Regions from separate parts of the Homo sapiens genome. Here region 2 is linked to region 1. Evidence: fine-mapped expression QTL. A gene starts in region 1. The other region holds a variant in brackets. All regions are shown on one strand. Distances are from middle to middle.

Evidence for each region.
Region 2: its variant is fine-mapped to the expression of TRIML1 in monocytes after interferon gamma (Fairfax 2014, PIP 0.94).

What each region holds. Positions count from the first base shown.
Region 1 is chr4:188,130,756-188,146,180 of GRCh38, reverse strand. TRIML1 (tripartite motif family like 1) reads right to left here and starts at 6,740. Exons shown (of 6, transcript NM_178556.5): 1 at 6,215-6,740; 2 at 5,558-5,653; 3 at 3,699-3,929; 4 at 2,321-2,343; 5 at 2,048-2,145. The coding sequence starts at 6,622.
Region 2 is chr4:189,030,095-189,045,519 of GRCh38, reverse strand. No RefSeq gene overlaps it. Among named protein-coding and RNA genes, the nearest start is that of LINC02508, 260 kb to the right of the region's middle. The variant C/T (reference allele first, on the strand shown) is at 7,338.

The sequences.
Region 1 (15,425 bases):
CCATGGGAGGTTCTGGTTCTTCAGTTTGGGTGGGAGAGAAAATAGCACTTATCTTTGGCTGAACTTCTAATGTGCCAAACATTTTCTGTACATTATCTCATTTAATCACTGCAAGCATTCTTTTCTATAATTTTTACAAAAAAGAAAACAGGTTCAGGAAGGTTAGGAAACTTCACCAAGATTACACGGTTACTGAGTGTTCAAATCACAAATCACAATCCCTAATCAGCCTTTTTCATTATGTCATGACAAATGCAGCTTCCTGTGAGTTCAGTGCAGCACCCAGGGACCATGTGATGAAGCACACATAGTCTGTGAACCGACAGTCACATATGGGGCCTCCTTTTATTTTTTTATTTTTTTCCTGAGACAGTTTTGCTCTTGTTGCCCAGCCTGGACTGCAATGACGCGATCTTGACTCACTGCAACCTCGTCTCCCAGGTTCAAGTGATTCTCTTGCCTCAGCCTCCCGAGTAGTAGTCTTGTCCACCACCACGCCCGGCTAGTTTTTTGTATTTTTAGTAGAGATGGGGTTTCATCATGCTGGCCAGGCTGGTCTCAAACTCCCGACCTCGGGTGATCCACCCACCTCAGTCTCCCAAAGTGCTGGGATTACAGGCATGAGCCACCATGCCTGGCTGAGGATTCCAACTTCCACTCACTGTCCAGACAAGATCAGGTACCCCAGTCATTCCATTTCTGACTTTTTTTTTTTTTTTTTTTTTTTTTTTTTTTTTTTGAGACGGAGTCTCGCTCTGTCGCCCAGGCTGGAATGCAATGGCGCCATCTCTGCTCACTGCAACCTCCACCTCCTGGGTTCAAGTGATTCTCCTGCCTAGGCCTCCCGAGTAGCTGGGATTACAGGTGCCCACCATCACTCCCAGCTAATTTTTTTTTGTATTTTTAGCAGAGACGCAGTTTCACCATGTTGGCCAGGCTGGTCTCGAACTCCTGACCCCAAGTGATCTGCCCGCCTTGGCCTCCCAAAGTGCTGGGATTACAAGCGTGAGCCACCGCACCCGGCCCCAATCATACCATTTCATACTTTTATTTATAGACCAGATCCCACCATAACTAATTATCTGTGTGATTAATGCCTTCCTCCTCAATTTCATTGAAAATTCTACAAAAGGAAAGGCAAAATCTGCCTTACTTATCATTGTAAGTAAGCGCAGAGCCCAGTAGCATAGTGCCGGGGCCCATGGCAGGGCTTTATTCAGCACTCTGGAGTTCAAAGCTCATTAGGCCTCTTCCTCTGAAGGTCAGATTGTCCACAAGATAAAAGCTGAGAACTAATCCTGACGTCTCTCAGTGTTGGCTGGACTAAACATCTGGAGCATTCTACAAGGACAGTTCGTTGAATGCACCCTCACTGGGATTTTAGAATTTAAGTCAGCTTTCATCCTAACGGGATCAGAGCTAGAAATGTAGACGCCCCTGCATGAGGGGGGCGTGTCTGCACGTGCAAGGGGGGGATGGAAAAGACAATGACAAAACCAACAAAGAAAGGACTAGGATTGGCTGGGCGCAGTGGCTCACGCCTGTAATCCCAGCACTTTGGGAGGCCGAGGCGGGCGGATCACGAGGTCAGGAGATCGAGACCATCCTGGCTAACACAGTGAAACCCCGTCTGTACTAAAAATACAAAAAATTACCCAGGCGTGGTGGCGGGCGCCTGTAGTCCCAGCTACTCGGGAGGCTGAGGCAGGAGAATGGCGTGAACCCGGGAAGCGGAGCTTGCAGTGAGCCGAGATCGCGCCCCTGCGCTCCAGCCCGGGACACGGAGTGAGACTCCGTCTCAAAGAAAAAAAAAAAAAGACCCTTTAGACAGAAAACAAAGCCAGATAAAGCCTGAGTCAAGTCTCACTGCTTCTCTCTGCTCACGCTCAGAGACGGTCTGTGGCCCCAGCCCTCCCTGGTGTTCCGTGCTGGCCCGGATTCCTTAACCAGGAGCCTCGTGTCAGATCGTGAATGTCTGACACTGGAAGAAGGTATGCTGAAGTTAATTCTTCGAGCCCCGGAGGGGTAACAAATCAGGCTGACTTACTGCTGAATTTTCTTAGCATCTCCTTCATTCCCGTGATGCGGCACAGACTCAGCTCTGTGGTGGTGGCCTCTGGACACTGAAGCAAGAGTGGCTCGCTCCTGCAAGAGAGCAGAGAGGTTCACTCCTCGGCACAGACCGCGTGACCTGCTCCAGCTGGAGAGTCCACCTCATTTCTCCCCCAGCAACAGCGCAGACCTCCTATCCCCACTCAGAACTGTCCATCAGCACCACTGCCCCGCAGCTTGCATAACTGAACACAGAATGAAAGCCTACCTTTCCAGGGCTCCTCTCACTTCCTACGGGTAAAAAAGAAAGAAGTTAGCATGGTGCGCTTTGATCATAACACAGACGAAATTCATTTTGCATACAGTCCTTGCAAAGCTCACAGAATCTGCTTCCCATGAAGCACACCATGAGTGGGAGCACAGAGAGCAGAGAAAAGCGTCCCCAGTTTCTTCCAGGGATGTGCTGTGGTGAACACAAGGTGTTTCTCACAATGACTAGAGAATACTTTGTCCTTTTCTTTTTCTCGTATCATCACCTTGTCCAGGGAACCTGTTCTGCAAACAAGCCAACCTGTTAGTCTCGATCATCCAGTGAGAGGCAGAGATAACAAAGGAAAATGGGCTGGTGAGAACTGAGGCTAACCAAGCCTGTGTCAGGTCGGGGTGGTGTGTTTGGAAGGCACTAAATTAAATAGTAGCACTCTGTGGAACCAGTCTACAAAACAGACCTGAAGCTGGAGTTGGATCACATGGCTTATGTTTAAGAAAGTCCACGGCCGGGTGCCGGTGGCTCTCGCCTGTAATCCCAGCCTTTTGGGAGGCCAAGGTGGATGGATCACAAGGTCAAGAGATAGAGACCATCCTGGCCAACATTGTGAAACCCCGTCTCTACTAAAAATACAAAACTTAGCTGGGCATGGTGGCACACGCCTGTAATCCCAGCTACTTGGGAGGCTGAGGCAAGAGAATTGCTTGAACCCAGGAGGCGTAGATTGCAGTGAGCCAAGATTGCACCACTGCACTCCAGCCTGGGCGACAGTGCGAGACTCTGTCTCAAAAAAAAAAAAAAAGGTCCTGAAGAATGCAGCAGCCTAGAAGGGCAGTAGACCAAAGGTGGTGAGAAATAGGAGCTCCCTGCACAGAACAGGAGGGCTCTCCTGTCTATTAACTATCAGGCGGGCAGATCTCGTTAGTACCACAGGTATGAATAATTAAATCAGTGCCGCTATTAACCCATCCTGTAGATGACAGTCATCTAGACCTAGAGTTCATATCATAATGGTACTTATCTTCATCAGGTCTTTGTGAAGATTAAATTTAATGTGCCCAGCACATAGTAAATACACATTAATAAACTAGAAAAAAAAATTAACAAAGCTGAGGTTGCAGAGAGGCAGGTACAGAAGAAATTGAAGCCACTCTCAGGCTTGTTTGGGATAGTTATTCCTCTGGATGTGTTTTTTTTTTTCTCTCTCTCTCTCTTCTATAAGGCTTTATTGACATATAGAATGTCAATTCTTTAGGAAAACTACTTTTGGACCAGAACTTAGTTTTTAAGATGAATAAAGAAAACATTATTTCCTATGGCTTGAAGTACTATGAGTTACTATAATTTTTCCCATTACTCTCATGAATGTTATTCTCACCTCAAGAGATTCGAAAGCCGAGCTTTGACTTGAGGACTCAATCTGTGCGATCATTTTGCTTAGGCTTCTGATTTGCTGGGTCAGTTTGATCTCATTGTTCCTCAGCTTCCTCATGTTCTCTTTCTCTTCCTGTTCTAGTAGCTGGAGTTGCAGCTGCTCCTCTTCCTTCAGGAACTGGTGCATTTTCATGTATTCTGACACAACAACCTGTTTACAAGTCTTTGTTTCTTCCTGCCAAAACACACACACACACACACACACACACACACACACACGAGATAAAGTTAGTAAGAGAAATGCCCTTGTCTGTAGATTTTTAATCCTTACAAGTCCTAGAGTTTCTTTCTTTCTTTTTTTTTTTTTTTTTGAGATGGAGTCTCACTCTGTCGCCAGTCTGAAGTGCAGTGGCGCAATCTCGGCTCACTGCAACCTCTGCCTCCTGAGTTCAAATGATTCTCCTGCCTCAGCCTCCTGAGTAGCTGGGACTATAGTCTAGGAGTGTGCCACCACGCCCAGCTAATTTTTGTATTTTTAGTAAAGATGGGGTTTCACCATGTTGGTCAGGATTGTCTCAAGTCTCTTGACCGGGTGACCCACCCTCCTCAGCCTCCCAAAGTGCTGGGATTACAGGTGTGGGCCACCATGCCTGGCCAAGTCCTAGAGTTTCATGGCAACAATTCCTGAAATCCAACATATAATACATTTAATCTGTTGATGCGCTGGGTGTAGAGGTTGATGTTTTCGGAGGTATGTGCGCTATAGATACAATAGTAAACAAAACCAAAATCTCCATTCCCAGGAGGCGGTCGTTCTAGTGGAGAAAACCAAAAATGAGTAAGAAATATGACAAGTAGTGATCAGGACTATGATACAAATAAAACAAAATTAAGAAAAATTATGAAAAATGTGTGTTCATTTATTCAACAAATATTTATTCAATGAAAGTAGGTGTCAGATAACCAAAAAGGAACAGAAACATACATGGCAAATACTCTCACTTAAGAATTCAAAGTCTACGGCCAAGCACGGTGGCTCACACCTGTAATCCCAGCACTTTGGGAGACCGAGACAGGTGGATTACCTGAGGTCGGGAGTTCGAGATCAGCCTGGCTAACATGGTAAAACCCCATCTCCACAAATATACAAAATTAGCTGGGCATGGTGGCACACGTCTGTAATCCCAGCTACTCAGAAGGCTGAGGCAGGAGAATCACTTGAACCCGGGAGGTGGAGGTTGCAGTGAGCCGGGATCGCGCCACTGCACTCCAGCCTGGGCGACAGAGAGAGACTCCATCTCCAAAAAAAAAAAAAAAAAAACAGATTTCAAAGTCTATTGGGAGAATCAGATACATGGTTTTAAAAAATATATAATTTGATATTTAGTCCTTTGCTTTGACTGCTGGAGAGCTCAAATCCAAGTCCGTGACCAACCTTGAGGACTTGTCAGGTATCATTTAAACCACTATTTTGCTTTTATATCTCTGTCTCTTTATTTTTTTTAATTTGCATTTTCCCCTCCATGTTTTTGAGATATTTCTTTTTAAAATCGCTTTCCGTCTCATGTTACATGTCTATAAGTATCACTTGTGTTTTAAATAATTCTACCAGAGCCATCATAGAGGAAGCCACAGCGTTGTCTAGTTATGCAAAGGAGGCTCCTAGAGGGGGCGAATTGCAGCTGAGCCTTGAGACTCCCACGAGGACGCTCAGAAGAAGGCAGCCCAATGCAAGGAAACTGCATATTTTAGAGGTGAGACTGGAAAAATTTGTCTTTTTTTTTTCCTGATATTTCACTAAATTTCCCTTTAGTCCCCCTTATGGGGTCATATACAAGCAGCAAAAGTCAGACAGACACCGACCTGGCACAGTTTCACTCTCTCCTTCTCATGGGTTAGTACAGCCTGAGCTTCCTTTCTCCTTACACGCAAAAGATTCAGGATTTCCTGGAGTTTCTCCTGCAATAGAAACAAACCCTTTCTGGCAAATGAGCAGAGTCCCAGGTCATGAAGGGGCTTTGAAGACCAGTAACTGCGCAGTCCTAGGCCTCTAAAACAAAGGGCAGGCTGGGTGCGGCGCCTCACGCCTGTAATCCCAGCACTTTGGGAGGCCGAGGCAGGCGGATCACCTGAGGTCAGGAGTTCAAGACCAGCCTGGCCAACATGGTGAAACCCCGTCTCTATTAAAAATACAAAAAATTAGCCGGGCGTGGTGGTGGGTGACTGTAGTCCCAGCTACTGGGGAGGCTGAGGCAGGAGAATGGCGTGAACCTGGGAGGCGGAGGTTGCAGTGACTGAGATCGCACTGCTGCACTCCAGCCTGGGCAACAGAGCAAAACTCTGTCTCAAAAACAAAAAAAGGGAAAAAAAAGGGTGTAAACTGGACCCACGCCAGTTTGTGATGTGGTGCTCAGATGGGCCCTCGTGACTGTCCCCCACAGAGGACGTTAGGAAACGTCAGGAAAGCTAACGGAGTTAGCTGCGATGAGTCGTGGGGTTCATGCTGAGCAGCTGTCTTACTCTGTGATGCTCCTCAGCCTCGCTGGAGAGATGCACTCTGTTTGCACCATGGCTCTGGGCTACGAAGGCGCTTCCACCCTGCTCGTCATCGGAGAGCGCCTTGGCAGTGGTGGGCATCCTCCCGTAGCTGCCCTGCTCATCCTCGCTCTGCAGCACCTGGGACCGGAGCTGCCTGGCGATGCTGGCCAGCCTCCCCAGACGCTCGTTTGACTGGAAATGCGGGCCCTCCAAGGTCCTCCAGCACTCAGGACAAGATAAAGGTGTGTTATGTTCCTCCCAGCTCCTGAGGAGACACACCAGACAAAAGCTGTGCCCACACTCGGTGGTCACTGGGCTGCTGAAATAGTCTAAGCAGATGAAACAGGTGAGTTCCTCCCTGAGGTTCTCCATCAGATCTGCTGTAGACATTTTCTCGAGGCTGGATATGCAGCCAGGTTACACCTCTGTTCTGGGATTAGCAAAGCCCTCACTGCCGTCCTACAGTTTTGAGTAACACGCGGGTGACCTGTTCCTATGTTGTTATGACAAGAAACCCTTATCTCTTCTGTGCCTGATTTCACCAGCTGACATACACTGTCCAACACAAAGCCAATTATGACTTAATGTGGAACTCCTGTATACTGGGCTCCTCACCAACCCCAAACTTTGAGACTTATCTCTGTGAAAAGCACACATGCTAGAGGCTGAGGATTCTGGCTTCTAACAGGATTACCATTTTGAGAACTGGTTATTGTACATAAACAGCACTGTGGAACCATGTGAGCATGTGGGTTTTAGGCTGGAAGCTTGGGTGATTTGGTGTAAACCAGTAAAGAGATTTGAGTTTTGATGATCTCTAATAATATCTGAATTGGAAATTTGGTCCAAATCTTTTGGGAACTCCACTAATAAAACCTAGTTGAGAACTGAGAGAAGAAAACTGTAATACATAGTCCTTTTCTCATTAGCCCCTTTTGTTCTGCTTGACCAAAGCCTAAGCTTTTGTTCCTTTATTGGGTACTGTGTACTTTTATTTAATTTTATTCATCCCAACAAAATGAGAGCTCTTCCACTGAAGTATTCCTTGGTGTTAGGCGCACGATGAATTGCCAGAGCTGTTTATTGATCTTCCCTGCACACCCTAGTACTCACCCATCTGCCATCTTGGAAAGCATCTAAAATGACATTCTAATTGGAAGTTGCCTCAAGAGGCTATCCCACTATGGAGCAGATGGAAAGAATTATATTTTAGTATAAATGTAATTTTGCTCACTTATTTTCACCCATTGAAAATTTCCAAACTAGGCCCCTTCAAATCCCTGATTATCAGTTCTTACTGGACAGAAATGAAGTGTGCAGACATTTTTTCGGACATATGAAAAAGTAAATGCCTAGTGTGGAGACTGTGCACAGTGAACTCCGAGATTGGTAACAAATGCCACAAATTCACTGTGTCCCCTGCTCGGGAGTCAGCTCCTGTCCTGGCCTGCCTTCTGCTCACTGCATGCCAGGAAGTTGCACCTCAAAAGCTCTTCCTCAAAGGCCAGCGAGTTTGACCTTCCCACGAACTCATCACGCCATATTTCTGTCTCCGTCCCCTCACTCTCCAGCTTGGCAGCCTTCCACGAGTCGGGTCCATTACTCAGGCTGTTCCGTTCATTGGTTTCTGACTTTCAAGGCTCCAACTGCTACTTCTTTCCCACTTACCTCCAACAGGATGTTGGATGTTTTCTTATCTTGAACTTTGGGAAAAAGAAGTTTTCTGGCTGAGAATGTTTTTTCCTCCACCTTCCTTTCTCCTAGTCAAAACTCACCTTTCTGAAATCATTAATTCAAAATGTTTCAATCCTATACATCCCTTGTAAAGCATACGTGAATTGCTAGGATGAGAATTTAAGCTATGAAAAAATAAGAGCAAAGAGTTATACTACTGTAAAGAGGAAGAGAGGTGGCATCAGGGTGGCATCATGAAACCTCTACCAAGATAGCCTCCAGGATACTAACTTGTCACAGCTTCAGAATATTGCTATGAGTTAGTCTTGTAAGAGTCTTAAAAAAAAAAAGAAAAAAAGTTTGGCCAGGCGCGGTTGCTCACATCTGTAATCCCAGCAGTTTGGGAGGCCGAGGTGGGTGGATCACTTGAGGTCAGGAGTTTAAGACCAGCCTGGCCAACATGGTGAAACTCCGTCTCTACTAAAAATATGAAAATTAGGCCGGGTGCAGTGGTTCATGCCTGTAATCCCAGCACTTTGGGAGGCTGAGGCAGGCAGATCACTTGAGGTCGGGAGTTCGAGACCAGCCTGGCCAACATGGAGAAACTCCGTCTCTACTAAAAATACAAAATTAGCCGGGCATGGTGGCACATGCCTGTAATCCCAGCTAGTCAGGAGGCTGAGACAGAAGAATTGCTTGAACCCAGGAGGTGGAGGTTGCAGTGAGGTGAGATCACGCCATTGCACTCCAGCCTGGGCAACAAAAGCGAAACTCTGTCTCAAAAAAAAAAAAAAAAAAAGTAAAAATAGCTGGGTGTGGTGTTGCACGCCTGTAATCCCAGCTACTTGGGAGGCTGAGGCAGGAGAATCACTTGAACCCAAGAGGTGGAGGTTGCAGTGAGCCAAGATCCCACCACTGCACTCCAGCTTGGGAGACAGAGAAAGATCCCATCTCAAAAAAAAAAAAAAAAAAAAAAAAAGACTACAATAACACTAACTGCCACCACTAGAAAAAGAATTTATGAACTACCATCTCCATTCAGTGTGTTATTTCAACACAACCCCAGGAGGAGTCTTTAACATTTACCAAAATCATTAGAATAAGCCTCACAATACAGTTATAGCACATCACAGAGCCAGTATTCCAATTTGGAATAGGGAGGCTGGCATAGTCTCTGTTCAAGTCACACTGATCTGCTCTATCCCGTTTCCCTCTTCCAGATAATTTTTTTTATTTTATAGGCATCGTAACACAATAACCACGTGTTATTCATTGATGACTACAAGAATTCTTTGCACGTGGCTCGATTTTTCTGTTAATGAGTTATAAATGAATAGAGGAACTATATTATTATGGAATCATAGTCTTATATTTAGCTGGAAGTCAAGAGATCATATAGTCCAACTACCTTCTACAGATGCTGAGGAAAACTGAGGCTAGAATAAATTAAATTCATCTCCTGATACTCACTTACCACATACGCCGGATTAGGACTAGGAAACTGGAGCGCCTACCTCCCAGTCTTTCTCTTTTGTCAACACACTATACTGCATCCACTTGTTGACTTGTGAGTGGGTGAAAATTTCCAGTTATCTCAATAAAATGAACATTGCAGGCCAGGCGCGGTGGCTCACACCTGTAATCCCAGCATTTTGGGAGGCCAAGGCAGGTGGATCACGAGGTCCGGAGATCTAGACCATCCTGGCTAACACGGTGAAACCCCATCTCTACTAAAAAAATACAAAAAATTAGCCGGATGTGGTGGTGGGAACCTGTAGTCCCAGCTACTAGGGAGACTAAGACAGGAGAATGGCGTGAACCCGGGAGGCGGAGCTTGCAGAGAGCCGAGATCGCTCCACTGCACTCCAGCCTGGGAGACAGAGCAAGACTCCATCTCAAAAAAAAAAATGAACATTGTCCAATTGCTGTGAGAAGGAAGTCAGACAGCTGTCATTATGGAGTGATGGTGTGACAGGCATCTGAAATCACTGACCACATTCACTCTTGGGAAGGCAGACTTCCTTACCATCTTTCTCAACATTTTGCTTGGGCTTAATTCATAGATGAAATGCATTCATAGAATAGACCAGCCTTCCCAAAATATATGACCCAATCACACTACCAGACACGGCTTCTGAGATCAACAACTCAAGTAGCTTCTTCTCTGGCCTTTCTCTCCTGAGAGGGTGATGCTAGGAGTACTCCAAGAGGGTCACTGTCACAACTATCACCCAGATGCCATCAGGGTTGGCACATGCAGAAAAAAATGAACTTTATAGATACAGTAAGGGCTTATTTGTTGATGAGGCGGTGGACTAGTTGGGAGCTTATTTGAAAAATACATTGCTTGAAAGCCTAGCTTTAAAAATAAAGTTAGCCAGGCCCAGTGGCTTACCCCAGTAATCCCAGCACTTTGGGAGGCCAAGGCAGGTGGATCACCTGAGGTCAGGAGTTCAAGACCAGCCTGGCCAATATGGTGAAACCCTGTCTCTACAAAAATACAAAAATTAGCCGGGCGTGATGGCGGGTGCCTGTAATCCCAGCTACTCGGCGCTGAGGCACGAGAATCACTTGAACCCAGGAGACGAAGCCAGCAGTGAGACATGATCACCGGTGCACTCCAGCCTGGGCACAGAGCGAGATTAAAAAAATACAATTGACCCTTGAGCAATGCAGGGGTTACAGGTGCTGACCCCTTGCACAGTCAAAAATACACTTTAACTTTCCTAGAACATTAACTACTAATAGTCTACTGTTGACCAAGCCTTATCAATAACAGAAACAGTCAATTAATATATTTTTTTGTTACATGTATTATTTTATTCTTATCAAATAAGCTAGAGAAAAGAAAATGTTATTACGAGAAAATCTATTCACTAAGTGAAAGCGGATCCTCATAAAGGTCTTCACCCTTGTCGTTACCACTTTGAGTAGGCTGAGGAGGAGGAGGTGGGGGTGGGAGGGCTGGTCTCGCTGTCTCAGGGGTGGCAGAGGCCAGATAGGTAGAGGAAGTGGAAGGCTGAGCAGGAGAGGCAGGCATTCTTGGTGTCACTTTTATTGAGAAAAATCCGTGTATAAGTGTCCATGTTGAGGAGTTCAAACCCAGGTTGTTCAAGGGTCCTCTGTATATCTGTCATTTCATGCCAGTCTGGAAAAGATAGGTTACTCAACACACAGTTTAGGGAAAGTCAGGGAGTCATCTGGAAAAATAAATTCAGTTGATCTCTACCCAGCAACTTATACCGAAGTATATTCCAGGTAGATAAATACAGGATATATGTGTGTGTGCGTGGGCAGGGGGGAGTGTGTCTATTTTTTCCCAAGTATGAATTTCTACTCATATGTTTCCTTTTTTATTGCTTTTTTCACCTTATTTATATATTTCTAGGAAAGAGAATTTGCAACAGTTGTCAAATATATACTCTGAAATTATGGAGCAGTCTTACATGAATGTATACTTAAAATAATAGCTTTTATTACTATTATTTTTTTTTTGAGACGGAATCTTGCTCTGTCGCCCAGGCTGGAGTGCAGTGGCGTGATCTCAGCTCACTGCAACCTCCGGCTCCCAGGCTCAAGCGATTATCATGTCTCAGCCTCCCGAGTAACTGGGGATTACAGATGTGCACCACCATGCCTGGCTAATTTTTGTATTTTTAGCAGAGATGGAGTTTCACCACGTTGGCCAGGCTGGTCTCAAACTCCTGACCTCAAGTGATCCACCTGTCATGGCCTCGCAAAGCGCTGAAACTATAGGCGTGAGCCATCACACCAGGCCAAAATAATAGCCCTTCATCTTACTACATAGACATTTTTTAAAAAGCAGATCTGTTTACATACATTAACATGATATGACATCCATTATATGACATTAAGGGGAAATAAATTTTTGCCCTCAAAAATAGTTTGTCTAAATAATAAAAATTATATTCCACTATTTGTGTATTTTTCCTAAAAATAAGAGGTCATGCTATAGATGTTGACATATGTATTTGTGTAGATGAAAGCACAGAAGAAGTATGGAATTTCATGACTGTGACACTAAAAGCATGGTCAAAAAAAGCAACAACAGACAAAGGGAACTACATCAAGCCAAAAAGCTCCTGCACAGCAGAGGAAACGATCGACAGCGTGAAGATGCATATTCTGCGGAACGAAAGAAAATGCAGTGGCCCCTCAGCGTCTGCAGGAGACTCATTCCAGGACCTCCTGCAGATACCAAAATTCAGGGATACTCCAGTCCCGGAAAAAAAATGACATAATATTTGCATTAACCCTGCACATCCTCCTGTATACTTATAAATCATCTCTAGATTACATGTAATACCTAATACAATGTAAATGCTATGTAAATCGATGTTATACTGTGTTGTTTAGAGAATGACCCAAAAAAGCCTACATTTGCAGACTTTCACATTTATTATTTATTTTTAAGTATTAAAGTATTTTTAATGCTCTTGCTTTTTTCCCCCACACTCTGCATGTGGCATCCAAATAGTTAACATTCTAAATACAAAAAAACTTCAAAAATAGAAAACTTAGAGGTTTTGGCAGACTGTAGAACCTGACGAAGTGGGAGTCGGGCTGGAGGTGAGGGTGAGCAGAGAGCCAATCACAATAGGCTTCTGTGTTACGCCAAGTTTTGAAATTCTTTCTGTAATCGATGGGAATTGCTAGAGATTTTAGGCACAGGAGTGATAAAATTATAAAATATTATATAACATTTTCAGAAGATCAAAGAACCACACATGTGAAAGAAATACAAATAACATGAACACCCCAGCTTTTTCTTTATAAATGAGAAATTAGGAAAAAATAAAGGAAAATCTCTACCATCATGGAATTTATATTTTAGTAAGGAGAAGCATAAGATCAAAAACAGATATATATTAAGTAGTTATAAGTGCTAGAAAGAACAATTTTTAAACAAGGTAAGGAACATAATTTTTTTTTTTTGAGACAGGGTCTCAGTTTGTCACCCAGGCTGGAATGCAGTGGTGCAATCATAGCTCATTGTAGCTTCAGGCCCCCAGGGCTGCAGTGATCCTCCCACCTCAGCCTTTTGAGTTGCTGGGACAACAAGTGCACACCACCATGCCTGTATAGTTTTTATTTATTTTATTTTATTTGTAGAGATATGTTCTTTGTATGTTGCCCAGGCTGACCTCAGGCTCCTGGCCTGAAGCCATCCTCCCACCTCCGCCTCCCAAAGTGCTAGGATTACAGGTGTGACCCACCATGACTGGCCCCATAATGAGTCTTTTAAAAAATATTTTTGATCCACGGTTGATTGAATCAACAGATGCAGATCCCATAGATTTGGAGGGCTGACTCTGTTTGCAAATCACATGTCAGATAAGGGGTTAATTCCCAAGATATATAAGGAACTTCTATAACTGAATAGCAAAAAAACTAATAGCCAGATAACAATATGGACCAAAGAGTCAGATATTTCTCCAAAGAAGACATAGAAAGGCTAACAGGTATATGAAAAGATGCTCAATATCACTAATCATCAGGGAAATGCAAATCTACAATCACAAAGAGAGCACCTCTCACCTGTTACATGGCTATTATCAAAAAACAGAAAACAAACAAAAAACAGACAACAAAAGTTGGGGAGGATGTGAAGAAATTGGAACCCCGTTGGTGGAAATCCAAAATAGGGGCAATTGCTATGAGATGAGGGACCAGGCATGGTGACTCATGCCATAATCCCAGCACTTTGGAAGGTCAAGGTAGGAGGATTGCTTGAGAGCAGGAATTCAGCCTGGGCAACATAGCCAGACCCTTCTCTACAAAAAAACTTCTTTTTAAATTAGCCAGGCGTAGTGGTCCATGCTTGTGGTCCTTAGTCCAGCTGAGGTGGGAGGATCATTTGAGCCCAAGATGTCAAGGCTGCAGTGAGCTGTGATAGTGCCACTGCAATCCAGCCTGGGCAACAGAGTAAGACCCCGTCTCAAAACAATTTAAAAAATAGCGGAGATGAGGAAACAATTAAATGTCCATCGAGGAATGAATGGATAAAGAAAATGAGATCTACACATACCAATACATATATTGAATGCACTATATTGAATATACTCTCTTGAATATACTATACATATTCAAGTCAGTCTTGAAAAGGAAGGCCTGTCATATGCTACAGCATGGATGGACCTTGAGGACATTATACTAAATGAAATAAGTCAAGCACAGAGAACAAATACCACATGATTCCCCTTCTACAAGTTACCTGACATAGTCAAACTCAGAAGCAGAAAGTAGAAGGGTGGTTTCCAGGGACTGGGGGAGGGAAAAGTGAGAAGGTGCTAAACTGAGTTGGGGAGGCCAGGCACGGTGGCTCATACCCATAATCCTAGCACTTTGGGAGGCCAAGGTGGGCGGATCACTTGGGGGATCACTTGAGGTCAGGAGTTCGAAACCAGCCTGGCCAACGTGGAGAAACCCCGCCTCTACCAAAAATAATTTTTAAATTAGCCAGGCGTGGTGGTGAGCATCTGTAATCCCAGCTACTTGGGAGTCTGAGGCAGGAGAATCGCTTGAACCCAGGAGGCGGAATCGTGCCATTACACTCCAGCCTGGGCGACAAGAGTGAGACTCCATCTCAAAAAAAATAAAAAAATTAAAATTAAAAAATAAAACGAAGAGTGGGGGAACAGTTTGAAACCAAGGGTTTGAGACCAGCCTGGGCAACATAGAGAAACCCTGTCTCTAAATATAAATATATATATATATATATATATATATTTAGCTAGGAGTGGTGATGTGTGCCTATAGTCCCAGCTACTTGGGAGGCTGAGGTATGAGGATCTCTTGAGCTCAGGAATTCAAGGCTGCAGTGAGCTATGATTGTCACTTCATTCCACCCTGGGTGACAGAGCAAGACCCTGTCTCCAAATACACACACAGACACACACACACACATATACCTTCTAAATAATTTGTCAGCAGTTTTTTCAGTAAAGAAATATTGGAGAATAGAGTAGGAGCTAAGAAATGTGAGGTGTGACTTGGAGTAAGCCAATTAATGAAGCAATTTTCCTCAGCTTTAAGGATAAAATTGTCTCTGAAGATTGGTTTCAGCTGTGATATAATAAAATTTTTTAATAGTTTGCAACTTCAATGGCAGCTTTTATTTATTTAACGATTAGATATTGCGCCTCTATTATATAGAGAGCAATGAGCTCAGTGCTGAAAGTGACTAAAAATTATTTCTCTTCTTTGGGAGCAGAAGATATACGTGCAAAAGAAGAAGAAAAATCTACGAAATGAAAAGACGTGTGCCCTGAGAGTGGTAGAATTTAAATTAATTAACTGCTTTGGCATTTTAGTGGCGGGAACATGACATTCTTGCTGGAACAATTAGAAAAAACTTCCGGGAGAAATGGTATTCGATCTGGACCTTTACGGACTAACACGTATTTCAACTGAAGAGATAAGCTACTATTTAGGAGTGAGAAAACTCACTGAATATTTCAGAAATAAAATGTGTAATCTGATTGACGGTGAGTCAAAA
Region 2 (15,425 bases), 900 kb before region 1:
TGGGAGTGTACAATGCACAACCACTCAGGAAAACTGGCAATTCCTTACAAAATTAAACATGCACTTACTCTTTGTCGTAGCAATTCCGCCTCTAGGCATTTATCCAGCAGATATGAAAACGCATGCACAAAAAGGTGTGTATTTAAGGGTTGACAGAGCTTTATTCCTAATATCTGAGCACTGCAAAACTCTATTGTCAATCCATAGATAGGTGAATTTTTTTAAAAAGTTCATTCAGACAATGAAATACTGCTTTCCAATGAATAGAACTGACAACTGACATATATAACCACAGGAAAGAATCTCAAAACATATTTCTAACTGATGGGACTAAGACACACAAAAAGTCATATCATAGGATTGCACAGATATGAAATACTGGAACAGGCAGAATGATAGTGACAGGGAACAGATAGGTAGTTCCCTGGGATCAAAATAAAACTTTGTGGGGTGATTGAAATATCCTTTATCTTGACTGGGAGTTATGTAAGTATATATTTTATCAAAACTCATTGAACTGTATACTTACAATGGGTACATTATTTTGCATGTATAGATCTAAAAAGGAAAAAGTACTAATACCGCGTTTTATATTCTAACAATTTATCAATAAGAGTAAATTACTCTTATTTAGGGAGACCTAAAGTGATGAAAAGAAACTGAGTAAGCAAAAGTCAAACCAGGAATTCAGACTTAAATATTACCATAATAGAATTAACAGAGTGATTTTTGTCTAAAATTCTCTGGACTCTATCCTTTATCTGTATATTTTATTGTGTAGTCAAAAATATTTAAAAAGCTAAAATCATTATTTTTATTTTCTCAAACATGGTGAATGTAAAACTACTCTGAGTTTCTTTAATTTTCACGACAAATGAAAGGTTAAGCCACTCTTTCTGGAAGGCCACACCAAAGCTTCATGAATGATTCTAAGTGACAACGACCAGGGTAAAATAAAGCACTTCGAATATAAGACTACAGTTATGATAGGCCTTAAAATCTCAAATTCTTAACAACAGAAACTGCACAATCTCCATTAGTTAAAAGGACGCGCGTGTGCTATACACCACCTTCTTAGAGCAGGCAATGAAACAGGAAGAAATGGGCAAATTCAATGTTTTAGTAGGCGGTTTGTGATAATATTGATGATTTTAACATACTGATGTTCCTTAATGCATATTCTGCCAAATAAGTCATTATCACAGCTCTCCAATGAAGAGGAAGTTTTAGTAAAAGCAAATAGGCGTTAGGATAGCTGAAAACTCACTAACTACTGCTATTTAAATAGAGAAATATAGTGCTATTATAAAAAGTATTTGCTATCTTCTTTAAATGTTCTCCAATGAGATTAGACTTCTGTAGAGAAAATGTGCTACAATAAAAGTGTGAAGCATGAGGCTGATGTTGATGGAGGAAATTCAGTGCTAGGTTAGCAGCAGAGAAGTTAAGCTATTAAAACACGTGTGTTCACACCACAGCCAGCGAAATTTCTTAATGGTTGCTGTATGGACACCATGGCAGCATTCTTCCCTAATGGAGCGCTGCGTGTTCAGCCGATCAATCAACCTCGCTTTTTATCTGATGTTTGCAGGCTTTTTACTAAAATAGAAAAGAGGCTCTTACTGCCTGCAGGAAGTTTGAAATTGAATGGAGGAATTGGAGGCAAATAGATTGAATCATATTGAAAGAGGTACAAAGTCATCTTCTCACAGGTGAACTTTCTTCTAGAAACACGTTAATAATCCACTTGACAAATTGCTTTCAGTCGCAATTCTGTGCTATTTATCACCATCATGACCAGTCTCTCTTGGTTTAGTTTAGTCTGGTAGTAGTTTAACGAGTAAGAACTATTTTGAAGGTAGATTAATAATTTGAAAAGTAAGTTATCATGTTGAAAGAATGAAATGTAATTCCAAAGTGAAATACAACCAACGGAATGATCATGGGGCAGTTCTTCCCTCTGACTGTGAATTGAGCTAAACGCATGTCAGGTATGAAGAATGCTAGAGTGATGCATGGCCCAGCTAGAAATAGAGGCAAATGCATGCAATTGAGATTTCCAAACTCTCCTCTCCACTTTTCCATTACCACCTTCTGGACTTGTTTTCCATTTATTAAATATAATCATTAAGTGAGTCCCTTCCTTCCTTCCTTCCTTCTTTCCTTCCTTTTTGACAGAGCTTTGCTCTGTCGCCAGGCTGGAGTGTAGTGGCGTGATCTCTGCTCACTGCAACCTCCGACTCCCTGGTTCAAGCAATTTTCCTGCCTCAGCCTCATGAGTAGCTGGGATTACAGGTGTGTACCACCACGCCTGGCTAATTTTTGTATTTTTAGTAGACACGGGGTTTCACCATGTTGGCCAGGTTGGTCTCGATCTCCTGACCTTGTGATCCGCCCACCTCGGCCTCCCAAAGTGCTGGGATTACAGTCGTGAGCCAATGCACCCAGCCATTTGTGCTTTCTCTGTTTTGGGTGACCATATAAATTATGATCCAAACTGTGACATTTCTGAAACAGACAGGGGTACTAATCAAAGGGGACATTAGGACAATACATAATAGACCTGCAGTGTTCTGGGCAGATCAGGTTGTGAGGTCATGCCACCTTCAGTCCTTGTTTTAGGCATCATAAACATGCCCATTGCTTTAACTCTCAGCTCTTTGAAGATGACTCCTAAATGCATGTCTTATATCAAGCTCAACTCTTTTTGATACTACTAACCTACTCAAAAACTTACAAAGGTTCCCCATTGCCATACTGTGTCATTCAAGACTCTCTTAGATAACCCAGATGATATTTCCAAAAGCAAATTCATTCCTCTGCACTCCCTGAGGCATAACTTAGAGTCATTCAATCAAACTGAATTGACTCATTATTTCATAATTTAACTATTTATTGCCCAGAAGTGTATTGTTTCCTCTACCTAGAATTTACTCTTCCATCTCCTATTTCTATTTTTATTCACATGAAATTAATTTTAATTTTTAAGCATCTCCTTGAATTCTAGATACGTAACTTTTTTTTGATATGACTTCTCCAACATGAGCAAACAAGAATGAGTTCTCTACCTCTCTTAAATTTGATTATAATTTTTACATTACTACTTCACCTGTGTTTTCTTTTACTGGTGTTTTATACTAATGTATGAAATTTGTTAACTTTTATGCAAAATTATAGCCTCTTTGAGAACTATAGATTTCATCTTATGTATTACTGTTTCCATAGTAGCTTGTTTTGGTTGGGGTTGTAGCAGATATTCAGTAAAAATATATTGATCGCCCAAGCGCAAGAAAGAGAGAGAGATCAACTTACAAAACAGCCATAACCTTGAATTATAGGTGCATCATTAGGAGTGCATCATTTTACTGGAATTAATAGTAATTATTTGCGACATTATTTGTTGTGATTTTTTTTTCTGTTCTGTATAAATAACTGAATTATGTGACTTTGGTTTTTGAAATGGTTCATGACCAGATCTAGAAACAAATCCTCCTTCTGTCATCCAAAGGTAGGCTTTCAATATTTCTTAGACCCTGAGGAAAAGTATACTCATTCATGTAGACAAAAATTTTTCATGACTGAAGCTTAAGTTTTTATATTTCTTTAGAGTTAGGTAAGTGTTTTATGTGACTCAGAAAATGGCTAAAACTACAAAATTAAATTATATTAAATTAAAATTAAATTATAAAGACTTGTCAATTTATAAAAAGTAACTCATTCAAAATATAGAACAAAATTTTATCTTCCACATAAAATATATTCCTAAAATCCTCTCATTTTAAATTGTTTATCTGAGTGAATTTTTCCAAATTTGTAAGGGTTTCAAATTCATTTTGTGAAGTTATCCAATGTTTAATTTTATCTTTCAGAGGTGAAAAGTTTCTATTGGAGCCACATTAAATTTTAAAGTTTCTCAGCTTATATCACACCTTTTAGGGTACTGCATGTAAAGTTGTACTCAAATAAATATCTGTTGCATAAATCCAGTTTTGCTTTTTCTCCAAAATTCTTACCTGGAGCATAAATTGCTGTTGTCTGACGCTAGAATTAGAAGTTTGTGCAGATTTAGTATTAAACCTCTGTCTGTAGTGGCTCATTAAGATTGCTTTTCAGTATTTGCAAAATTATACAATCTCAAAGAACTATGTTCTCTCTAGAGAGTAAAACTTTATTTTAGCAAGTCACTTCAAAGCATCTCATGGAATTCCTACAGAAAAATGATGATATATGGACTGTCCGTGGCATGAAAATAGGGCTCCAAACTTGGAGTAGATTCTTGTTTGTTTGAATGAATGTTTCCTGGCATGTGGAGTTTATCAGCCTGTCACACAAGAAAGACTCAGGGTAGCATTCCACTCTTCCCATTTACCGGCTGTGTGGCATCTGTGATGGGCTCACTGTCCCCTCAAAATTCAGATATTGAAGTTCTAACCCCTAGTACTTCAGAATACAGCCTATTTTGGAGATACAGTCTTAAATTGCACAATAAAGTTTAATTCAAGTCTTTAGGATGGGCCTTAATCCAATCTGACTGGTGTCTTTATAAGAAGAAGAAATTTGTACACCAGAAATGTCCTTGCACAGAGGAAAGATCTTGTAAAGAGACAGAGGGAGAGTGGACATCTGCAAGCCAAAGAGAGGGGCCTCAGAGGGAACCTACCTTGCCAACCTCTTGATCTTGGACTTCCACCATCCAGAGCTGTGCTGACATAACCTGCTTTTGTTTAGGCCGCCCAGTCTCTGGTACTTCGTTACGGTAGCCCCAGCAAAGGAACATGGCCTCTGACTCTCCACCACCATTGGTTGGCTCAACAGACACAGCCTCCTGCTCCCCACCTTAATGGGACTGACAGCTCCATGAAGTCCCTCAGGCCCCTCTGGAGAGCCCATCGTCTCATTGCCAGAGAGGCCACCTGGATAGTGTAGCTCATAGACTGCTCTGCTTCCCCACGTCCCAGACGAAGGGCTCTTCTATGCATGGCCTTATTTCTCATCTCACTAACAATATGGAAGAGCAGATCTCAAATGTAATGCAAGGCATGGGAAAAGTTTAACATGGAGAAAATGTGACATTTGATTCTGCTTTTATCATTATATAAAGTGGACAGAGTCCTTTTCATGACGATTTGGAGGCTGCTTGGAATGCTGAGAAGTGCTTCTCCCCCTGTGCTGATGTATCACCTCCCAGCATGGCTCAGTAGCAGAATACCAAGGAATCCATCCAAAGGATTCCCTTGATCTCCACCTCAGTGTCTTCCAGGCCAAGCTGCTGTGCCAGCACTGTAATGAGAGGGACTGGCCCCATAACACCGTGGGGGGACAACCCAATTGGCTTTGTGAGACAGAAGTGATCCACTGATGGGGAAATCCCATTTGTGATGTTTCTCACTATCTCTGTGTAACACGGTTCATGAAGGCAAGGCAGCCATGCTTATTTTGTTCTTTGAAATTCCTTCATGACACTCATTAGAACATTCTGCACAAAAAACACAGTTTAAATCCTGGCTACATATTCACCTTGGGGTGTGTACAGGGTAAGTAATGAGTCAATGACTAGAAATTCCCTACCCTCTGTTCAACTTTTAAAAATTATTTTAATTTAGGTACAGTTGTATACTATTTTAGTATACGTTTTTTTATTTTCAAAGTGCTTTTTTTTTTTTTTTTGAGATGGAGTCTCGCTCTTGTCGCCCAGGCTGTAATGCAGTGGCATGACCTCAGCTCACTGCAACCTCTGCCTCCCGGGTGCAAGAGATTCTCCCACCTCAGCCTCCCAAGTAGCTGGGATTACAGGCAACCACCAGCATGCCTGGCTAAATTTTGTATTTTTAGTAGAGACAGGGTTTCTCCATTTTGGCCAGGCTGGTCTTGAACTCCAGACCTCATGTGATCCACCTGCCTCAGCCTCCCAAAGTGCTGGGATTACAGGTGTGAGTCACTGTGCCCAGCCCTACTTCAACATGTCCTTTATCTCTGTTGCCATTCACTGAGCATGTATTTATGGAAGGCTGAGATACACCTGATGCTACTTCTTAGATATTTTAGCTTATTTTTAAGGTACTCTAGTCTGTTCACCTATTATGAAAACTGAATGCTGTCCTTAGGGATCTTACAGTCTAGTACAGGTGAGAATTCATGCATATAAATAAGTATAACAAAAACTACGGAATCCAGGGGTTTGCTTTGGACAAGTCGAACACACATTTTCACTGTTGCCTTTTTCTATATTCAAAAACCAGCAGGAAAGAGGGCCCCGCTAAAAATAAGATCATCACAAACAGGAAAGTGTTATTTCCCATTTTCTTTCAGTGCCTTGTATTATAAGGGAGTAGGATCTGGGGGTAGATGCTTATGTAACACAACACCTTAATGCATTTTCTCCTGTGCTAATGTTATGTCTGGAACCTGTCAGGGATAAGCAGCAGAAAAAAATTGCTTAGCAGGAGAAAATAACAGAAATGTGGAGGCTGAGGATTGATTGGTACCTAGAAAGGGGCAAAGAAATTCTCCCCTCAACAGTGAAAACTGAAGGCTTTGGTGATGAACGAGGACTAGGATAAATGATCTCTTGCAGGTAAATCGCCCAGGAATTTCTAGGACTGCAGTATTCCAATTTCAGCAGTTAGTGGAAGATTCACATTCAGAAACCCTTCTTATTAAATCAAAGTTTCGAAAAATCTTTTCTGGTACTCTGTCTTCTTAGTAGTGGGCCTTTTGAGGAATGAAGGAATATGAGATCTAGTATATTGGGACATTGTACAGAAAAAGACCACAGCAGGCATTAGAAATGAGACAAAGTAAGGATCAGTAATGTAGGGACAATGGAAAACCATAATAGAAGGAAAGAGTTTTTATCCAAAATATGTAATGTATATCCCAGTCCCCAGCTCAAACCCTTACAAAGACTCTCAGAGGTAGTGGAAGTAAAAATAGATTTCCCTCTAATTATGAAACAAGGGTCTCTCAAGACATGGAACCTTGTTATGAGAGTGGAGGACAACCCAGCTGCTTTTGGGGAAAGGTGAGATGTGAAAATGAGTATCTGGCTTACAGTCAGAAGTGACCTCAGAGAGACTGAAACTGAGCTGAGGGTCTATTCAAGTAGGGAAGGACTGAAGTAGGCAGTTAATAGTGTGTTCTCAGGGATCGTGAGCTGTGGATGCTGCCACACGCGACATTCACTCGAAATCTTCATTCCTTTTCGGAAATATTATTCTCATCTATTTTTTAAAACTCATTTTTTCCAGTTAAGATACTTATTTTTCTCTGGCATTGTTGCCAACTGTTATAATTTCATCAGCTTCAATCTATGTAAAATATTTTCTTCTTCATAGACA[C/T]ATAGACAACAAGTTATTTTGTCCCAAATGGACAAATGCAGATAACAAAGTTTCAAAATTCAATATTATATAAATATTGTAATCAGCGAGTCGTGCACATAGTTCGTTGCATCGGTTATTTGGCTTCTCCGTTCTGGCGTTGCTGTTGTTGTTGTTGTTTGTTGTTGTTGTTTTTGACGGAGTCTCGCTCTGCCGCCCAGGCTGGAGTGCGGTGGCGGGATCTCGGCTCACTGCAACCTCCGCCTCCCGGGTTCCCGCCATTCTCCTGCCTCAGCCTCCCGAGTAGCTGGGACCCGCCACCACGCCCGGCTAATTTTTTGTATTTTTAGTAGAGACGGGGTTTCACGGTGTTAGCCAGGATGGTCTCGATCTCCTGACCTCGTGATCCGCCCGCCTCGGCCTCCCAAAGTGCTGGGATTACAGGCGTGAGCCCCCGCGCCTGACCCATTCTGGCTTTTTTACCTGGTCTTCATATTTACATAAGTTAGGATTGCCTAGAAGGGACTGAAGCCACTGACCACATTTAGCACAGTAGAATATATATGGCCAAATATAATGAAGACAAATATATAAAAACAGGCATTATTTGGGTACTTCAGAGAAAGGGGCTCTGTCAACATCAAAGTATTGTCCAGTGTTATTCTCTCAGCATCTCCATATGTCCTTGTACTTTCCCATATGACAAGGATCCTTAAAAAAAATCAGTCTCCAATAAGTGTAGATGTAGTTCATGAGTAACTTTATGATCTTATAAAATATTTTAGTTCCTACTATTGGCAGGCCTTATGTCGTGTCTATATTTCCTCTGCACGACATACACAATACTCAGAGATAGATGCTATCACACTTATATTTTACTTATAAGGAAATAGAAGCACTGAAAGGCTAAGTCACTTGCCCAAGCTGTCACCTAGCGAAGAGTGGATTCATACTTGAACACAGGTAGTCTAACTGCCCAGTTCACATTTTTATCCGCCATCCTTGGTAGCCAGAGAAGTATGCATTATTACACATTTATTTTCAGAAGCAATGCTGTCCATCCATATCGTTGCATGCACACTGATCAAGTGCGTGTCACTGTTCTCTGGACTGGTGATCTAAAGATGGGTCCTGGTCACACAGCGGGGCACTCTCTACCCTTTCTCCTAAGCAGTTATTCTGGTCAAGACAATCAACTCTGCTCCTACTAAAAGGCTGACTCGGGAGACTCAGTGGCTCAGTAAGAGAGCATGTGCCTCACCTAAAGGCAAAATGGTTCAGGAATGTGTCTGCTTCTATGCATATTAACTAGTTGCAGCATGAACTGGAACATTTATTAATTAATTGCAGTTCTTAAAGTGGATAGGTTTTTGCCCTACTACTGATGTCCTTCCCTTTACTAACTTTGCCCCTGGGAAGGGAGAGTGATGGCCTTACTGAAAAATTTCAGAAAACTGAATACTCTGTTCAGCCCTCTCATCCATTCTTTGCTAAGTGAATTGCTGCTTGATGCCGGGCTGGGCTGTTTATTTAGAAACTGCACTCCTTGGGAGATGGAGGGCTTCTGGGATGGGAAGGGGGAAGCCCGTTTAGCTCTGAGATTCAGTGTTAGCAAAACAATGTGGCCAATAGGCCTCTATTGCATCCTCCCACGTGGTCTCATCTCGCTCAGTCCATGGAGCAGAAAAGAAGGTATTTTTGTTTAGGGTGCCATATACAAACACAATCACTAATTAGATAAAATTCTATTCTCCAACAGGAAGCAAACAAGTTGTGAGTATCCAGGCCATTATTATCTAGGAAACCATGTAAACATACTCTAATAGTTGTCACTGTGAAATAAATATATGTGTGTGTGTCTTAGGTTATGCTGCCACGCGTAGACTGCCTACAGTCTTAGGCTATGCTGCCCCGCGTAGACTGCCTACAGTCTTAGGCTATGCTGCCCCGCGTAGACTGCCTACAGTCTTAGGCTATGCTGCCCCGCGTAGACTGCCTACAGTCTTAGGCTATGCTGCCCCGCGTAGACTGCCTACAGTCTTAGGCTATGCTGCCCCGCGTAGACTGCCTACAGTCTTAGGCTATGCTGCCCCGCGTAGACTGCCTACAGTCTTAGGTTATGCTGCCACGTGTAGACTGTCTACAGTGCTTGGCTGGGTCAGGGCACTGGGCTGCCAATAACTGAAAGAGATTTAGGCTAATTGGAGAAAAGCAATTTATTGAAAAGCTTCACGGAATTCGCAGAATGAATGGAAGGCTGCCCAGAGCAGGTATAAGAATGACAGGAATCCAGAAGTTGCAGAAAGACTAGAAGCAGGTATCAGGAAGGAAAACGGCCGTCTTCAAGCCAAAGCGGCCCGGACTGGAGGCTGAGCGCCTAACGCAGTGAGTGCCACCAGCGGGATGGGGAACTTCTGGCCGTTCTGTGAATTCTTGCAGCGCTTGCTCTAGATGCGAAGGCACGCGCGTATTTCCTGAGGGATTCTGGAACGCGGAGAGGAAGGTCTCGATCCTTGACTTTGTATGGAAGGCGGTACTTCCAAGTTTTCCTCCATTTCCTCTATACGCAATGGGGCGACCATCACTGCTCAAAGAGACAGAGACACCATTGGAGAGAAAGAGCAGGAGATGGGAAAACACCATAGACGCCATCTATTGCTCTGGACATAAAAAGCCCCTGGTCTGGCAGGTGTTGCAGCTTTTCAAATTATAGTACACATAGTCCAAAAGAATAGTGCACACTGAAAATGTCCTAGGCAAGGAAGGGAAGGAAATGCCGGTGGAGCCTGGAATAACTGGATAGAGGTTAACAGAGGATGTCAGGAGCGGGTGGACCTTGAAGGATGGTAGGAGCTGAGTAACTGGAGAATGAGGTGGGCACGATCCAGGGAGAGGGGTGTGTGGGCGTGTGGAGACGGGCAGGGGACGGGTGTGCAGAGTGGAGGTGGGCACTGGAAGGGGCTGCGGGCTCCTCATCCCGCACCGTGACAGATCAGCTGGGAGCCCTCCACGGGGAGCTGCCTGTGGAAACCCGCGTCTTCCGCAAGGAGGATTTTGATTTATTGGTTTAAAGGAAGCCAGTGCAGGCTCCTGAGCATCCGTGTCCCAGTGGCCCAACATCCCGCTTGTTTGACGTTTAAGATCAGAACAGCAGAGGCTGCTCAGAGGCCTGAGAACCTCGGATGTCATTAGTTTTCCTTCCAGCTACTGTTAAGAGGCTCCCTTGTACCTAGTATTTCTTTGTCTTTGGAAATCTTATTTATGCTTCTCTTTGTTTCCTATTTTCCTTCCAATTTAAACAAAAAAAATCTATTTTCCCCACATTTAAAATGATTTTTTAAAAATGCTTTGTTCCATCATATCATGAGAAACAAACTTATTTTGATTTTTTCCTAATGCAAACTAGTTTTAATTTGGAGTTGGGAAATATCTTTGCTACCAGAGGCAATAACAGCATGAGCAAGTCAGCCGCGACACCTCTGGGCACCCTAAGGTTTGAACAAACACTAAGTTGTGAATCCACCTTGGATGTGAGTGTATTTAAGTACAACTTTCTTATTTTAGTTTTAAAATAAGCATTTATTTTCTCGCCTGCCTTACTTTATGAAACATTTTTTACAGCTTATCTTTCTTTAAAATCTTTGATACATTTGGCTGATTTTGTTCTAGGTGAGGATCAATATGGATCTATGAACTTAAAAAAAAAAGGGAGAGAGATGTGGAGTTAAAACAACAACAAAAACATCACTCTTCAGTGGCTGCCACAACTCCTGCTTCTGCTTTCCCATTCGCTGCCAAGGACAGGCAACCTCAGCGATGTACCGAGTGAGACGCTGGGCAGGCGTGAAAGGTACAGTGGGAACGCTGGGACCGATGGTGTGGGGAAGGACAGGAATGAACCGTGCCTCCAATGAAGAGAGCACCGTCGCACGCCTGCCCCTTTGCAGTGTGACGTTGCTGTTGTGACATTGCTGTTCCTATAACCAGCAGGTGAGGTGTGTTCTTCAGCTCCTTGAAACCAGGCAGACCTTTTGATATGCTGAGACCAGTAGCATGTGGTGGAAGGGCCATGTGGAGAAGAGTCAGGTGCCTCAAACAACAGACAGCACAGACTGCCAGAGGAGCGAGTGAAGCCAGCCCGGACGCTCTACTTACTGCAAGCCATCAGGTCACTGCAGCTGCATGTGTGAACCCAAGTTAGACCAGCAGGACTGCCTGGATTGCCAGTGCGTAAAATTATGCAAAAGAACCAATGATTGCTGTTTTATGCCACGATTTTGGAGGACCTTGTAACAAGAACAATAAATAACTGACACAGGTGTTCAAGGCTGCAGTGAGCTATAACTGCACCACCGCAGTCCAACCTGGGTGACAGAGCAAGGGAGCCTGTCTCAAAAAAATAAAATAAATTACTGACATATGCTTATTATTTTTAAAATAATTTTCTTTTGACTTAATTCTTCAGTTCAGCTTGCTTATATGGATAATATCAAAATGAATCACTTTAATTTTCTACTATGGATTATAGTTAAGAGCTTGTCAAAAATAGACCAGATACCTCTACAACAGCAGCATTTATTCAGGTCATGGTACCTGCATGGGCAACTGAGATCCATCGTCTGGTCCCAGGTTTTGTATGTCAGGTTACAGGACGGATTCACAACATTCAATCTCACAAAACATTAACGTTCTATTTAGAATGGTCCATTTCTTAAAAATTAAAGTAATGCTGCAACGTAGGCAAGATTTTTCATCTCTTCAGCAGAAAACCCTGACCTATGTTGGTAACCTAAATGAAAAGTGAAAATATTTCGAGATATAAATGATAATTTGGATGCTATTATACTATCACAGGATCCTGATGCCCCTTATCAGTGATAAACAATGGAACCTGATAGTGCATCCCAGCAGATAGGACCTCTTCCACACTGCACAGTGTTAGAGATGCAACGAGAGGCTCCAGGCCAGGTGCAGTGGCTCAAACCTGTAATCTCAGCAGTTTGGGAGGCTGAGGTGGGTGGATTGCTTTAGGCCAGGAGCTTGAGATGGGCGTGGCCAACATAGTGAAACCCCGTCTCTACTAAAAATACAAAACTTGGCCCAGTGTAGTGGCACGCGCCTGTAGTCCCAGTGACTCAGGAAGCTGAGGCACAAGAATCGCTTGAACCCAGGAGGCAGAATCTATAGTGAGCCGTGATCATGCCACTGCACTCCAGCCTGGGCAACAGAATGAGACTCCATTTCAAAAAAAAAAAAAAAAATAGACTCTAGTGCTGGTATTCTAATTTCTAAGACTCCATATGGAAATATGGAAATACCTGTTGAGAGACACCAGCATTATATCACGCTGACATCATTGCATTGTGATCCGTTTTTCCTGGCTCTGCACTCTTGATGGAGACTTGAGAAAACTCGCTGGCAGCACATTTCTCAACATTCATATTTTTGCTTAGGTTAGTACTTTACCAATCTTATCCCCAAATTGTGGCAGATCACTCTGTCCCTACTATGTCTCCAGGAAAGCAGCAGAAATCTCTCAGCCATTTTTATATCTTTGGCACATCTTCAAAGTTGATATAATTATTTGCATTCTTTCTGATTACGTGAAAACCGAGGCCTTATTTGTTATATTAAGAGTTCAAGTTCCTTAATAGTAATACTTTGGCTCATTGTTTTCTTATGAAAATATAGCTATAACATCATTTTAAAAGAGATGGGACTTAGAAAGATTCCGCTCTACTGATTTTACAGCTGTTTGGTGCAATACATAATTACTGGGTAGCTTTACTCCAGTGGGAAAATGATGCTCCAGATACTGCATTAAGCATTTTTCCTCACAATGAATGCCTAGTTTACTTTTGCACATTCTCAAATTTATATACTTCTCCCTCTTCTATTCCCATCAATAAGGCCTTTCCAGCAACTCTCCTCCTACTCCCTTTACCAAAACAAACACAAATAAATAAAATAATCAGTCAAAAGGAGGCAGGCATGAGGGTACTTTGTCAGTATTGTTATCACCTGGAGTATTAGTAAACTGCCTCAGTGGTGTGCGAGATTTCTTTCAAACCTTTGTATTTTTAAGTGGGACATGTAATTATATCACGAAAATGAGAACGGAAACAAAATTAAAGTTTTATGCTATCATTATTAATCATTCTAGTCATAATATTTAATTTTCTGTCCCCTATGACATGTATAATAACTAAGGAAATATGCCCCATTTAAAGGATTGAAGCCAGTATCCTCCATCATTTGAGGGGAATTTCCAGCCAAAATGTTTGATTGGCACTCATGAGGACAGGTGCGACCCTGCACCTGGGTCACTAGTTAATTCCTCTGGATACTTGTTTGGGTCAAAATGAGCTCAAGTGAGTAACAGGCACAAAGCCTTCGCTTTCTGTCTCGACCCAACAAGGACCTGTACAGAAGATGAGTTTTCTCATCAGCCCATTCCCAAGTATCCCACATATTCAATGAGCCAGCAGGTCATCTCCTGTTCAGCAGTTGAAAATCACCTCCGATTCAGCTGACACACAGGAAGTCCATCAATGTCCATTAGCCCAGAACAAGCGTGTCGGTCACAGCAGCTGTCAGTCTAGGCCAAAGAGGTCCTGTCAGGGCCATTGTTATTTTTGTCCTGAAGTTAGGTATGAAAGTTATGGTCATGGCAGGTTTTAATTATTTGTGTCAACAAAGACAATGGACAGTCACCCAAACTCAATAACTCTGTATTTTAAAAGCTGTAAAGAAAAGCACATGTGATAAGCTTATCAATATTTCTGATATATTATTCAGGTACTTTGGTCCTTGTGTGTCTCTGATTAGGTGTCGGCTTTTAGATTAGATGGATTGGATTGATTATGGCTTTTGAAAATTGTTATTTATATTTAGATATCTCTATATTGGACACGTAGTTGTTTGGAGAAATGAGTCTAATACCCATGTTGAAAGCAGAAACGGGATATAACGTTTTTGTTCTGTTTCTATGATCTTTTTATGAACAAGAATGTTACGCCAACTCTATTTTTTTGGAGATAAATGGGTATATGAAAATAACACCTTCAGCACGTATTGCCTAACACTCATTTGTAATTATCACGTATAATGCCTGGTTGATTACGGTTTTAACGTCTTTGCATATTGTAAGCCCCCAATGATGCTGTGACCTACTTGGATGCAGAGCCTCTTTCACTGTGTCATTATGCCTCCAATAATACAACTAACATGAATAGTAAAGAGCAATAAATAGATAGCTCCCATCCATTGAGCTCTTAGTTGCTCGTGGCTTAATGCTAAACACTTCCCATATGTATCTTAACCCTGAAAATCATTCCATGAGGCAGCAATTATTTGTGTCTTTACAGACAATGGAACAGAAGTGTATGTAATTACTAACTTGCTTATGCTTATATTTTGCTAAAAGAAAAGGTTCTCTCCCCCTTTTAGGTGCATTTGCAAGGCAGCTCTTCGGAACAAGGCACAGGCGTTCTATTTTTTTATTATTAGTAGCAGCAGCAACTGCTGCAACAGCAGTAGCCTTAGTAGCAGTTTGCTGTTTATAATCTCCTTTCTCAATTGGATTGTTTGCATCTTGAGGTCCTCTTGCTCATATTTGTATTCTTAACATCCATGAGCCACCTCTCAGGTACCACTAATACAATGTCGAGGAATAAATGGGGAGAATTGTTATGATCTTGAGCCTCGCTCCTAGAGGATCACTTCTCTGTAAGAGGGATGTGTAATTCAGGACTCCCCAGATGGGAAACCAGTATGTGTGGAAATATTATAAAGAGGTTTCACTGTAGCGTACGTTGTAATAATTTACAACATTTGTTCAAATGCATATCCTACATGGTACAGCAATTACACAGGTAATAAATCTTGTATCTGAAAACACAGAACACATGATACCCAGCCTTTTCATGCACACTTGATTTCTCCTGATTTATTAATAACTTTCTCGTGTTTAAGTGACTGTCCTTATTACGCATTGCTTTGTTTCTCACTGTGGCATGACCTTAGCTCGACAGTTGCTAAAATTCTCCCAGGAGACTTTTTAATGCTACATTTGCTTAGAAGACATGTTCTGCCTTGTGGCTAATGATA